Linked DNA regions of Homo sapiens. The protein of the gene in region 1 purifies or fractionates together with the protein of each later gene. This does not show direct contact. Each region holds a gene or a part of one and is shown in the gene's direction. Other genes may lie near its edges.

Region 1 (6,669 bases):
ATGCCCCTAGAGAGCCCAGTGTCCCCCACACACACTTCCCGGGCTTGGGAGCCCTGCTCCTCTCCAGACGTTCCCCAGCAGAAGGACACTTCGTTGTCAGGAAATGAAGCAGTGGAAAGGAGAAAGCCAGCCTGGCCTCTCTGGTGTCCTGTTAGTGTGCGGCATCCTAGGGAGGCACCAGGAAAGACTCCCCACTCCTCAGAAGCCTAGAGCGGACTTGGCCATTTGAGAACGCTCACTGATATATAATAATGTTTAGGCGATTCAAACCTGACACAATACTCATGCTGCTGCCAAGGTTGGGGCAGCTTCCTGGGACTGCTGACATGGCTGTGCTGCCCTGGTGCCCTGGGGAACGCCTGCTTCCACCAGGCAAATAGGAAGGAGTGGCCGGCAGCCCCAGGGAAGCCGGAGCTGGAGCATTCTTGAACCAAGTTGCAGATGTAATGGTTGAGACGTCCCGGTCTTTACCTGGACCTTGGAGATTTAGTCAGGTTGCCTTGTGTAATCCTGATGCTGCTCTTTTCTTGTTAAAACAATCTTAAAAGTCCTCAGGCAGAACAAAGAGCAGATGCCTAAATGGCTGTACTTTTGATCCTGGTTTCCCTTAGGAGGTGCTCAAAAAGCATGAGCGTTTATTTATTTCGTCTCTTTTGGAAGAATGTTTGGGTTTAATGTGAAGTGTATTTAATGATTGCATTTAAAAACTGATTGCATAAATAGAGGGCTGTGCAAATACAGGAGGGGCTGCCTTGATGCAGGGCTTGGACCCAACCCAAGCCATCCTGAGCACTTAATGAAGGTGTCAGTGACATTTGTTCATTTGTGCATGCAGAGGCAGTAGAGGGCAGGGGGAGCAAACAGGAGCTTTGGAGTCCAGCAGGCCCGAATGCCTCCCTGTCTGCCCCTATTTCTTTGCTGTTGCTTTTTGTTGTTGTTGTTGTTTGCTACGGGATATTGACAATCTCAACCTTAATTCCTCACCTGTGCACTGAGGATTGCAAAGGGCGCCCTCATCAGTTTCATGTGAGGATTACACGAAAGGAGGGAAGCAAAGCGGGGGAGGAGGATGGTCCTGAAAGTGTGGATCGGTGGGCGTTTGCTCCTCCAGCCCTGGGTGGGAGACCCTCAGGAGCACGAGCGAGAACTTCACAGCCTGTGGTCTCTCCTTCCCTCACAGAAGTGGTCGACCAGAAGGCCGTGTATTTCTTCAACCTGACTTCCATGCAAGACTCGGAAATGATCCTTACGGCCACTTTCCACTTCTACTCAGAGCCGCCTCGGTGGCCTCGAGCGCTCGAGGTGCTATGCAAGCCGCGGGCCAAGAACGCTTCAGGCCGCCCGCTGCCCCTGGGCCCGCCCACACGCCAGCACCTGCTCTTCCGCAGCCTCTCGCAGAACACGGCCACACAGGGGCTACTCCGCGGGGCCATGGCCCTGGCGCCCCCACCGCGCGGCCTGTGGCAGGCCAAGGACATCTCCCCCATCGTCAAGGCGGCCCGCCGGGATGGCGAGCTGCTCCTCTCCGCCCAGCTGGATTCTGAGGAGAGGGACCCGGGGGTGCCCCGGCCCAGCCCCTATGCGCCCTACATCCTAGTCTATGCCAACGATCTGGCCATCTCGGAGCCCAACAGCGTGGCAGTGACGCTGCAGAGATACGACCCCTTCCCTGCCGGAGACCCCGAGCCCCGCGCAGCCCCCAACAACTCAGCGGACCCCCGCGTGCGCCGAGCCGCGCAGGCCACTGGGCCCCTCCAGGACAACGAGCTGCCGGGGCTGGATGAGAGGCCGCCGCGCGCCCACGCACAGCACTTCCACAAGCACCAGCTGTGGCCCAGCCCCTTCCGGGCGCTGAAACCCCGGCCAGGGCGCAAAGACCGCAGGAAGAAGGGCCAGGAGGTGTTCATGGCCGCCTCGCAGGTGCTGGACTTTGACGAGAAGACGATGCAGAAAGCCCGGAGGAAGCAGTGGGATGAGCCGAGGGTGTGCTCCCGGAGGTACCTGAAGGTGGACTTCGCAGACATCGGCTGGAATGAATGGATAATCTCACCGAAATCTTTTGATGCCTACTACTGCGCGGGAGCATGTGAGTTCCCCATGCCTAAGGTAGGGTTTCTTCCGCCTTTTGCCAAATTCTAAGGCTCAGCTCTGCCGCTACCGTCAAGTTCCTCAGCCTGCAGGACTTCTGTTTCCCCATCTGCAAAATGGGAATAACAGTACTTCCTATCTATTCCAGGCAGGAAATAGGTAGACATAGGTCACCAAGTGGCAGCCCGTAGGGTAGTTGCCGCCCACATATGTGTGAGTTTGGCTGTGTTTTTTGAAGTATTGGCTTGGTTGAATTGGGACTTTAAAATGAGAACATTCTTTTGAAAAGCAGGAGAATCCATGTCTTTAGAAACGCATCCCCACATAGCAACTATCTGCAGAGGTTGAGTAGATGCTGCTTCCTGTACACACGGCAGGTCCCAGAAGCTCCCTCCTGACCAAGGCTCTCATTTCTGTTCCCAGCCTGGACCCCAGAGTGTGGCAATCTGTGACTAGCACAGTGCTAGCCTCAGCAGCTCTCCCACTGTAGATTCCCTCCTCCTTGCAGCTCAGGGCAGGAATCCACAGGGAATAGGCCTTCACTGTGCACAGGGTCTGCAGGACACACAGCACTGGGCTGTTCTGTCTGTTGCACCAGCCTAAGGATTTCCAGTTCTCACCTTCGCTCCAGACTGGGCTGTGGCTGAGTCCATCCCTCTCCCTGCAGCCTGCTCTGCAGCAGCCTGGCTGCTTGTGATGTCAGCCCTCGGCACTCAGCACACAGTTTCTTCCTGCTTAGTTACTCTGCCCAGGGCAGGTCATGCCTTTCCCTCCAAGAAAAGAAAGTCAGTGCATAAATCCAATTTGAACTTAAATAATCAGCCAGCTGGGGAAGTCCAGACCCAGACATGGGGCAGCAGTAACGTGTTTGGGAATTAAATGGCTTCTCCTCAAAACTTCTCCTCAAAACCGTGCATGTGCAAGAGAGAGGGAGGTGCCTGACATAGAGACGGAGCCTGCTAAAAGGGCCTAGCAAAGACCCAGGCAGATGCAAGCCCGGAACCCTGAAGGCTTGCAGCTGGTTGGCCATGCGGTTAGCTTATCACCCTGGCTTGCTGCCTCCCCACCTTCCGGGACACCAGCCAGAACGCTGCAAAGGCAGGTGTCCCTGCCCTGCTCCCTTCCCACCACACCCACACAAGAGGGCTTCCTCCTCAACAGCACTACATATACAAATCTCTGTTTGGCTGGTGATGCACTGAAGTGGATGACCCGGTTGGTTCATCTTGTCAGAGGTGGGCACAGTTTTCCAAGCCAGGTCACTTTCTAACTAGGGGTCTTGGTCAAGTTACTCAGTCATTTTAAACCTCGGTGTCTTCCCAGTAAAGTCCAGGTAATACCCACCCCATAAAATTGCTAAGCTGACAAAAAAAAGGGGGTGATGCAGGGAGAGCAGCCCCTAGGAAATGTCAATGTCCAGCCTGTCACACTGCCACGCACATGCCAGGCCTTCCCTTCAGTGACAAGAGCACAACCTCGTGAGAAGCATGCCTGTCCTCCTCAGACTGCGAGACCAGGGCTGTGCTGGCATCTCGCTGGGTTTTCCCTCTGGGCAGCTTCTGCCTGCTTCCTGGTGCTCCGCGGGGATGTGTGACACTCAGGCGCCCCCATGTGGCCCTGCCGTGTTGGGGACACAGCGTGCCTCAGGGAAGCCAAAGGGCAGGAAGGCCTGGGGGCTCTTGGAGACCTCAGCCCGGAACTCAGCGTATGTCTGATTTTAGAGGAACCGTGTGCCCCGCCTTGGGATCTCGTCCATTCCTCTAGGTGGATGCCTATTCTGTGGCCTCAGCCGGGGAACAACAGCAGAGCAGTATGGCCTGGGACTGTGAGGATGGCATGGGTGCGTGGGTGGGTGAGGGCGGAGCTGAGGTAACCCTACTCCTTTTCTGCCTTGCAGATCGTTCGTCCATCCAACCATGCCACCATCCAGAGCATTGTCAGGGCTGTGGGCATCATCCCTGGCATCCCAGAGCCCTGCTGTGTTCCCGATAAGATGAACTCCCTTGGGGTCCTCTTCCTGGATGAGAATCGGAATGTGGTTCTGAAGGTGTACCCCAACATGTCCGTGGACACCTGTGCCTGCCGGTGAGACCACTCCAGGGTGGAAAGAAGCCACGCCCAGCAGAGCTGCCTTCTCGGAGCCTTCTGCAACCAGGACTTGTGGTGCAGCTGCAGACACAGAGCACAGCTCATGGGCAACATCACTGGGGCCCAGAGAGAGCTGTCCGCCAGTGCATCATTAGGGGGTCTTTCATTGCTAGTGACTAGCCCCTTAAATGCCAGCCTGAGTACCTGAAGGAATCTGGGAATTAGCCCTGGCCTGAAAGTGGCCCATCATTCATACCCACTGTTCTGAAGGCTTGAAAACAAAACATATCCACAACATTGGCTTGATGTGATCATCATCTCATAACTGAGCAAGAAGACTATGCAAATCTTAGGGCGCTCGCTCCCTGCACACGGAAAGAACTCTGTTTAAATGCTCAGTTCAGAACACTTTGGGCCACATAGTGATTTTGGAAAACAGGATAATCGTGGTGTAAATGAGTGTTTCCTTTCAAAGTCCACTGCAGAGCTTTTATCCATATGGTATGCACATGTAGCCAATATTGGTTTCTTTTTCTTAATATATATATTTTATTTTAAAACAACAAAAAGGGAGGGCGTTGACACCATTCCCCACAGAGATAGTCATGCTGAGTGTGGGTTGTTTAAACATGCATATTGAAATAACACATATAGTAACGTGGGAATACTAAAAAATAACCAAGATTTTATATTTTTGTAAATTATACTTTCTATACTGTAGATTGTGTATGTTATGTGTTTTTATGGAAAGCTAATAAATTAAAGGTACAGTGGTATCTTGAAAAACTGAATGTCACCCATTTCAAAATCTCACTGGCTCCCCATCTGTAAGTACACCATCTGGTGGTTGCTGGGGTCTCAGCCTCTTTTAGGGTCGCTGGAGTCCCCTAAGCCATCTCCATACTCCCTGGTGTCTGTCCCAGGCTCCAGAAACCCAGGCTTTCCCATGCTTTCCAGGGGCCTGTCCCACTACTGGTTCCTGCAAACCCAAGCTAGGCTGATGTTGAGAATGGACATGGCTCCAGACAGGGACAGTGGCCTCTCGGGGTTTCTCCTCATCCCCTAGCCTCAGGGACATGGATTGATTGGGAGGTGCCTGGGGTGTTTAAAAAAACATCTATGGTTGCCTGGTCAGAGATCTTTTACTTCTGGTAATTCATGGAGCAAGAGATTCAACATAAGTAGGGGTCTCTCCTGAGGTCCAAGGACTCATGAGGAAGTGGACGGGCCATGTGGTCTCCTGCACCTGCTTCTCTTTTGCTTGTGTGTAGAAGGATCACCCAAGCCACCCCAAATTGTTCCCTTATGCCCTTCGTTTACATTGCCTTATGATGGAGTGCCTGAAGCTGCTTAACCAGCATTTCTGAAAGAGAATCTGGATCCAATTTGAGACAGGTGTATATATAGCAGTCCCATCAGCTGGGACCTACAGATGACGTGGCCCCAAGTCTTAGAGGAAACTGCAAAGCCATAGTGGTTTTCTAAGAGGGGATGTCCAAGGAGAGAAGCAGCTCTGGTGTCTGTCTTGGGCCTTAGGCTGGGCTCTGGAGACCAGGATTCCTGTGCAAGGGATATATGGGGAAGTGCTCTCAGGAGACATGGGCAAGGGTGAGGTGAAGCAGAAAAGCAGGCTGGGAGCAATCCTGTGGGGAGCTTTGGAGCTTAGTTACTCCTCAGGGCAGTGTGGCCTCGAGCAAGGGAGCTGGGTGTTCAGGGCCTCTTGGCTTCTGGCTGCCCTGGGAAGGGCGATGTAAAGTCCCAGTTCCCTGGCCTTCTGCCCAGGCAGCCACAGTGATTCCAGGAGCCTAGGTAGCATCCGAAGAGTGGCAACTCCTGGAGGCGAAGCCATTGAAACTGGAGAATGATTAGCCAGAACTGGTAGGTGAGGGGGATGCGAGGGTGCCAGGGTGAAGCTCCGCAGCTTCTGCTCAGCATCTCCTATGAGGTGCTCCAAGTGACCCTGGGACACATGCGTGAGCAGCTGCCGTGGGGACCCCTACCTGCTGGGCACATGGCCCTGCCTGCTGACAGAGGTCAGGGGAGTGGTGGGATGGTCCTCCACACTCACCACCTTATTCCCTTACTCCCACAGGAACTGGACATGGGACCAAATTGTTCCCTTCAAGCTGCTATAGGTTGCTGGGCTGGCGCAAACTGGCCTGCACTTTAGTGCTTGGTTTGCCATGTCTAATTCTCTTTGGAACATGACAGGATATAAGTTAATAGCAAAATAAGTAAAAATATTGGGGCTTAATAAAACTCCAAGTCCCTTTCTTCTGAATATTCCATCCCTCATTTTCTTCTCATTCAACTGCCCCCTTTCTATTTTTGCTAAACATGGGCTGTCCAATAGTAGTTTTATCTTATTCTTTCTAGCACTTGCAGTTTCTGGGAGGCCTTCTGGATTCCCCCCAAATACCTGGAATGCCTCTGAGTCCTCATGTCTGGCTTACTGGGATTGGGGAGGGCAGGCTGGGACACTCTCCCTGGGTC
Region 2 (6,122 bases), on another chromosome or scaffold:
TCTCCCTAACTTACCCAGCGTGTCTCTTAATTAAGACATTGAGTGGTCTGCATCTTATACTAATTTCATCTTGGAGGGTGTGCTGGGTGAACAGACATCTGTGTGTTTGCTTGTGTGCTATGTCCCACTCTGCATGGCTGAGGGGACTGTCACTCTCAGAGGGCAGGGACCATGTTTTATATTGTATAATCATCAAAGCACCTAGCACAGTCTTCTGCTTAACATAGGGGCTCAGTAAATATCTGTGGAATTGAATTGTTACAAAAATAGAGCCACAGCCACAGTTGCAGAACTCTTGGCAGGAATACTATCCCAGGGACAGAACCCAAGATGATCCATTTTCTTCTAGCAGTGGTGGTATGTCGGTTGGTATACCCCAGCAGCCAGGAGTGAGGCTGCTCTTTGAAGAAGCCATAAAGGGAGAGGCCCGAGCAGAACTCCAGGCTGTGCCTGGAAGAGTCCCAGGTTTTGCTTGGGAATGGTCCCAGGACTCATGGCAGCAGAGCGAGAGTAACCTCCCAAAAAAGGTTATAAGTTGCAGGACCCCACTATATTGACGTTTAGGACCCAGATAAGAAGATTTCCTTTTTTTTAGTTTTTTTTCTTTCTTTCTTTCTTTTTTTTTTTTTAATGGAATCTTGCTCTGTCACCCAGGCTGGAGTGCAGTGGCATGATCTTGGCTCACTGTAACCTCAGCCTCCGGAGTTCAAGGGATTCTCCTGCCTCAGCCTCCCAAATAGCTGGGATTACAGGCACCCGCCACCAAACCCAGCTGATTTTTGTATTTTTAGTAGAGATGGGGTTTCACCATGTTGGCCAGGCTAGTCTCGAACTCCTGAACTCAAGTGATCTGCCCGCCTGGGCCTCCCAAAGTGCTGGGATTACAGGTGTAAGCCACCACGCCCGGCCAGATAAGAGGATTTTCTAGAGTCCCCTGTCTTACCTCCCAAGTTTTCTCCTTAACAAAATTAGAAAAAAGAGATACAAACTAGCACCCGAAGTAGCTTAAAATCCTGAATAAATGTACATTTAATTGCTCTTGCCAATTGCTTTTGATGATTTATATCAGCATGATGTCCCATTAATAAACCACAGTAACAATGTAACATAGCTAACATGTTATAGTGCATCTTGTGTCAAGCTCCCTGATAACTGCATTCCATGTATCATCTCATTTAAGGTGACAGCAGTTGGTTGTGAGGTGTGGATACTGTTACTCTCCTCACACTGCAGAGTCTTAAGAGACTGAGTTTTAGAAATGTGAAATAATTTGCCTAAGGTGACAAAGCCAGTGAGTGGCTGCTGCAGGACCGGAAGCCATGGTTTTCCCTCCTCCTGTATGGTAATGGTAATAATTATCACAGCTGCCTCTCCCCTTTTAGGCTAGGCCTCATACACTTGTCTTAATCACATTTCCCCATTTGTTTGTGGGATTTTTGTGCGCTTCACTCCTACTCTTACCCCATCCACTTCCTTTTTCAGTTTACCATGGGATCCTTTGTAGAAGGCCAACTGACTGACCATATCTGCCCACTCTCCACCCTAGGGAGGGCCTGACCATAACTACACCAAGGAGAAGATCAAGATCGTAGAGGGAATCTGCCTCCTGTCTGGGGATGATGCTGAGTGGGATGACCTCAAGCAACTGCGAAGCTCACGGGGGGGCCTCCTCCGGGATCATGTATGCATGAAGACAGACACGGTGTCCATCCAGGCCAGCTCTGGCTCCCTGGATGACACAGAGACGGAGCAGCTGTTACAGGAAGAGCAGTCTGAGTGTAGCAGCGTCCATACTGCAGCCACTCCAGAAAGACGAGGCTCTCTGCCAGACACGGGCTGGAAACATGAACGCAAGCTCTCCTCAGAGAGCCAGGTCTAAATGCCCACATTCTCTTCCCTGCCTGCCTGTTCCTTCTCCTTTATGGACGTCTAGTCCTTGTGCTCGCTTACACCGCAGGCCCCGCTTCTGTGTGCTTGTCCTCCTCCTCCTCCCACCCCATAACTGTTCCTAAGCCTTCACCGGAGCTGTTTACCACGTGAGTCCATAACTACCTGTGCACAAGAAATGATGGCACATCACGAGAATTTAGACCTGGATTTTACCATGAACCTCACATCTTGTACTCCATCCTGGGCCCCCTGAAACTGCTTATTCGTGATTCCTCACCAGCGTAGAGCTCCACCTCCCCTTTCCCCAGTACCCTCAGTGCCTGCTTCTCAGTGCTGATGCAGCTGATGACCCAGGACTGCGCTCTGCCCCATCACAGCCAGCATGACTGCTTCTCTGAGAGAACTTGCCCATCAGGGGCTGGGACATGGGGGTGTGGGTAAAGACAGGGATGAAGGATAGAGGCTGAGAGAAGAAGGAAGAATCAGCCCAGCAGGTATGGGCATCTGGGAAACCTCCAGCCTCAAGTGTGTTAGTAACATGAAAAAGCTTTGGGGGGTAGTTGGATCTGGGTGTCTGGTCCATTGCTGGCAGTGGACATTATTCTTGCCCTAAGAGACACTGCCTTTTCAGCAGCAGATACTGGTGAGATGGGGGTGGCTCAGGCTGTTCTTCCTCCTCCTAGAATGTCTGGAGCTGTTTCTACATTCAGATAACTGGGTCCCCTATCACAAGGCTACTGGCTAATAGGAATTCCCTCCTGGTGCCACCACTGGCCAGTACCTTTCCTAAGTCTTTGCTCAAATTAACCAGGTTGTGAGCCAGTGGCTTGAGTGAATGTTAGGCCTTGGGGGCTGAGTCTCTGAAAAGTCTAAGAAGCTCTGCCTAGACCAAATATGGTATACCTCCTGACCCCTCTCTCCCTCATGTCCTGGGATTCTGGGGAAGAGACCTAGAAACAAGCTTTCAAAGAAAAACCAGAAGTTGTCATAAATGGTCAGAAAGAACGATCAGGTTGGAGACTTGGGAAACCCAGGGCCTAAAGAGAAGTATCCATGAGGGTCAAACTTCCTGTTGAACTTCCTATGTTCTTTCTCAAGTGCTCAGGGATCTAAGTTAGTGGACAGCAAGCCTGTGGCTACGGGGTGGTGATGTTCCTCTTCCAGCTGTCCCCTCAGCTAAGGGGCTTAGTTTCCATGTGGGATGCCATCACTTGGTTCATGCTCATTCACACAAAGGGCACGTGTCTCAGCCTGGTATCAGGGAAATTGAGACTTATTTTTGCCCTAAAACGTCTCCCTAGCTGTTCTTCGTGGGGTTTTTTTGTTTGTTTTTTTGCCTAATTTGCTTTTTCTGACCAAGCCTTGTGGCACCAGCAATCTCCAAAGTCCTGTGGTGGGAGGGCTGAATAAATAAAAATACAAAGAGGTGGGTAAGGAGTAGGAAGGTAGAGAGCACCACTGATGAGGCCCTCCTAGCCCATGGCAGACCCAGACCTCTTCTCCCCCAGGAATTAGAAGTGGCAGGAGAGAACAACAGGGGCTGGGAATGGAGGGGAGAATTTCTAGGGGAAGTTTCCTGAGTTGAAACTTCTCCTGTGGTTACTGGTATTGAGAAATCAGCTACCAAAGTGAAAAAGGACAAGATCAATTCTTTTCTAGTCAGTTCTAAGACTGCTAGAGAGAGATACCAGGCCCTTAGCCTTGCTCTCAGTAGCGTCAGCCCCAGTTCTGAGCCTCCCCACATTACACTTAACAAGCAGTAAAGGAGTGAGCACTTTGGGTCCTTAGACTCACGTCTGGGGAGGAAGAGCAAGTAGAAAAGTGGCATTTTCTTGATTGGAAAGGGGGAAGGATCTTATTGCACTTGGGCTGTTCAGAATGTAGAAAGGACATATTTGAGGAAGTATCTATTTGAGCACTGATTTACTCTGTAAAAAGCAAAATCTCTCTGTCCTAAACTAATGGAAGCGATTCTCCCATGCTCATGTGTAATGGTTTTAACGTTACTCACTGGAGAGATTGGACTTTCTGGAGTTATTTAACCACTATGTTCAGTATTTTAGGACTTTATGATAATTTAATATAAATTTAGCTTTTCTTAATCACCTTGCCTGGCTTGGAGTCATGACTAATCCTGCACCTGCTCTGTCTGGCAGACCCATGCTGTGGAAAACCTGCTTACAGACATCACTTTTAAGTCCTTTGTGGATGTGGGCACAGTGAAGAGCAATAAAGAGTGTGAGGTTCCTGCTGGAGTTTTCAGCTCATCTGGAGAAGACAGGTCGAGGCCAGAGTTCCTTGACTGATGAAACCTTTATTTCCTCTGGAAGAGGAATGGTAGATGGGTTTCCTCTTGAGTGCTGACTCTGACTGGTTGGTAGTGGCTGCCTGAGGGCCTATTCGCACCCAATGGGAAGAATGTCATATGGCTAGTGACATCTCTTCTGTGCACTGGAAGGAAATGTCATGGCATGTATACCATGTATCTTCTATTTCTGTTCTAGGTCTTTGTTACAGAACTTTACTTTGCCTTGCAGTGATGGTCACTGGCAAGACTATCTCATGTAGTAAGAAAAGTACTGGAGCTGGGGACATGGAGGGCTAATTCCAGTCCCAGATCTGCCACTAGCTCTGTTTGATCTTAGTCAACTTTCATAGTTAGTCTGAGAGTGGATCAAATTATCACTAGGATTTCATTTATTTTTAAAAGCTGTCTTTTCATAGCTCATCCACTACTTCTCAAGGCTAGAACAAGGAGCTAGGGATCCCTTCTCAGGTTCTCTGGATGTGATATCCCTCAGTGAAAACTGGGAATCATGTTAATCTCAACGCCCGATGTAGAATTTCATGTCAAGTCTCAATAGTTGATTTTCTAAACCACACACCATCTATAGGATAATATCCCCATTCATTCATTCATTCATTCATTCATTCATCTGCTATGGGCTAGGCACTGCCCATGCCTAAACAAAGACATAATCTTACAGAGCTTAGAGTCTAGCAACACCATTACCACCACCATCCCAAAAAAAGACAAAAAATGAAAGTAAGAAAGACTGAAGCTTCTTGTATTTAAGTGACCAGAGATCTGAGTATAAGCTACAGTGTATAATTTTTCTAACTGTAGTAAGGAGTAGGTGTGCCAGAACAAAAACAAGTAGAATAGCCCAAGGATAACCATCCCTCCAACCCCCACTGTTCTCTTTGGGAGGGAAAAAAAAAGCAGAAAAGGAGGACATCTTGGGATAAAACAAAGGTTGGGAATTCCTTGTCTAGTTCTCTGGTATAAAATCTGAAACTAGGGTCAGGCACAGTGGCTACACCAAAGTAATCTCACCACTTTGGGAGGCCAAGACAGAAGTAAGGAGTATTGCTTGAGGCCTGGAGTTCACGATCAGCCTGGGCAACATGACAGGACCATATCTCTACAAAAAAATTTAAAAATATTAGTCAGGTGTGGTAGCTCATGCCTGTAGTCCCAGCTGCTTGGGAGGCTGAGGCAGGAGGATTGCTTGAGCCCAGGAGTTCAAGGTTACAGTGAGCTATGATCACGCCACTGCATTCCATCCTGGGTAACAGAGCAAAACCTTGTCACTAAAAAAACAAAACAAAAAAACCCTGAAACTGATAAGTGAGCAGATGGTGGGTCAAGTTCTAACAAACTGGCCATATTTTTGCAAACTCACTCAAAATACAGTCACGGTCTGTCTATGGTGTATGAACAAACTGTGGAATCTAAAATGAAAGGATCTCTGGCCCATAGAAAGGACTCTGGATAAACTGAAGCTGTCACCAAACGTAGGCCTAAATTCAATGCATAGGAACTCAGAGGCAGCATCTACAAAAGCTGAGGGTGCACAGGTTTCTAAGTGGGTTCTAAGAGGGTTCTAAGAGGACCCAGTAATGCACTGATATCCAAGGTTATCCAGGGTCTCGCTCTGTCGCCCAGGCTGGAGTGCAGTGGCACAATCTTCTGCCTCAGCCTCCCAAGTAGCTGGGACTACAGGCGCCCACTGCCACGCCCAGCTAATTTTTTGTATTTTTAGGAGAGACGGGGTTTCACCGTGGTCTCAATCTCCTGACCTTGTGATCCGCCCGCCTCAGCCTCCCAAAGTGCTGGGATTACAGGCGTGAGCCACCGCACCTGGCCCTAAGTTGTCTGGTTTCTATTTATGGACATAATGATAAAAGAAATGTGGCTGAGTCCTTTTTATGGCTACGAAACAGTCTGT

Evidence for each region.
Region 2: the proteins of GDF10 (region 1) and LRP4 purify together in Homo sapiens (affinity purification with mass spectrometry; 2 studies listed by BioGRID and IntAct, with this or other methods). This does not show direct contact.

What each region holds. Positions count from the first base shown.
Region 1 is NC_000010.11:47,308,616-47,315,284, forward strand, and holds the end of GDF10 (growth/differentiation factor 10 preproprotein), read left to right. Parts: intron 1-1,180; coding exon 1,181-2,106; intron 2,107-3,985; coding exon 3,986-4,177; 3' UTR 4,178-4,962; downstream 4,963-6,669. UniProt on the Homo sapiens protein: Growth factor involved in osteogenesis and adipogenesis. Plays an inhibitory role in the process of osteoblast differentiation via SMAD2/3 pathway. Plays an inhibitory role in the process of adipogenesis.
Region 2 is NC_000011.10:46,854,740-46,860,861, reverse strand, and holds the end of LRP4 (low-density lipoprotein receptor-related protein 4 precursor), read left to right. Parts: intron 1-1,546; coding exon 1,547-1,879; 3' UTR 1,880-4,145; downstream 4,146-6,122. UniProt on the Homo sapiens protein: Mediates SOST-dependent inhibition of bone formation. Functions as a specific facilitator of SOST-mediated inhibition of Wnt signaling.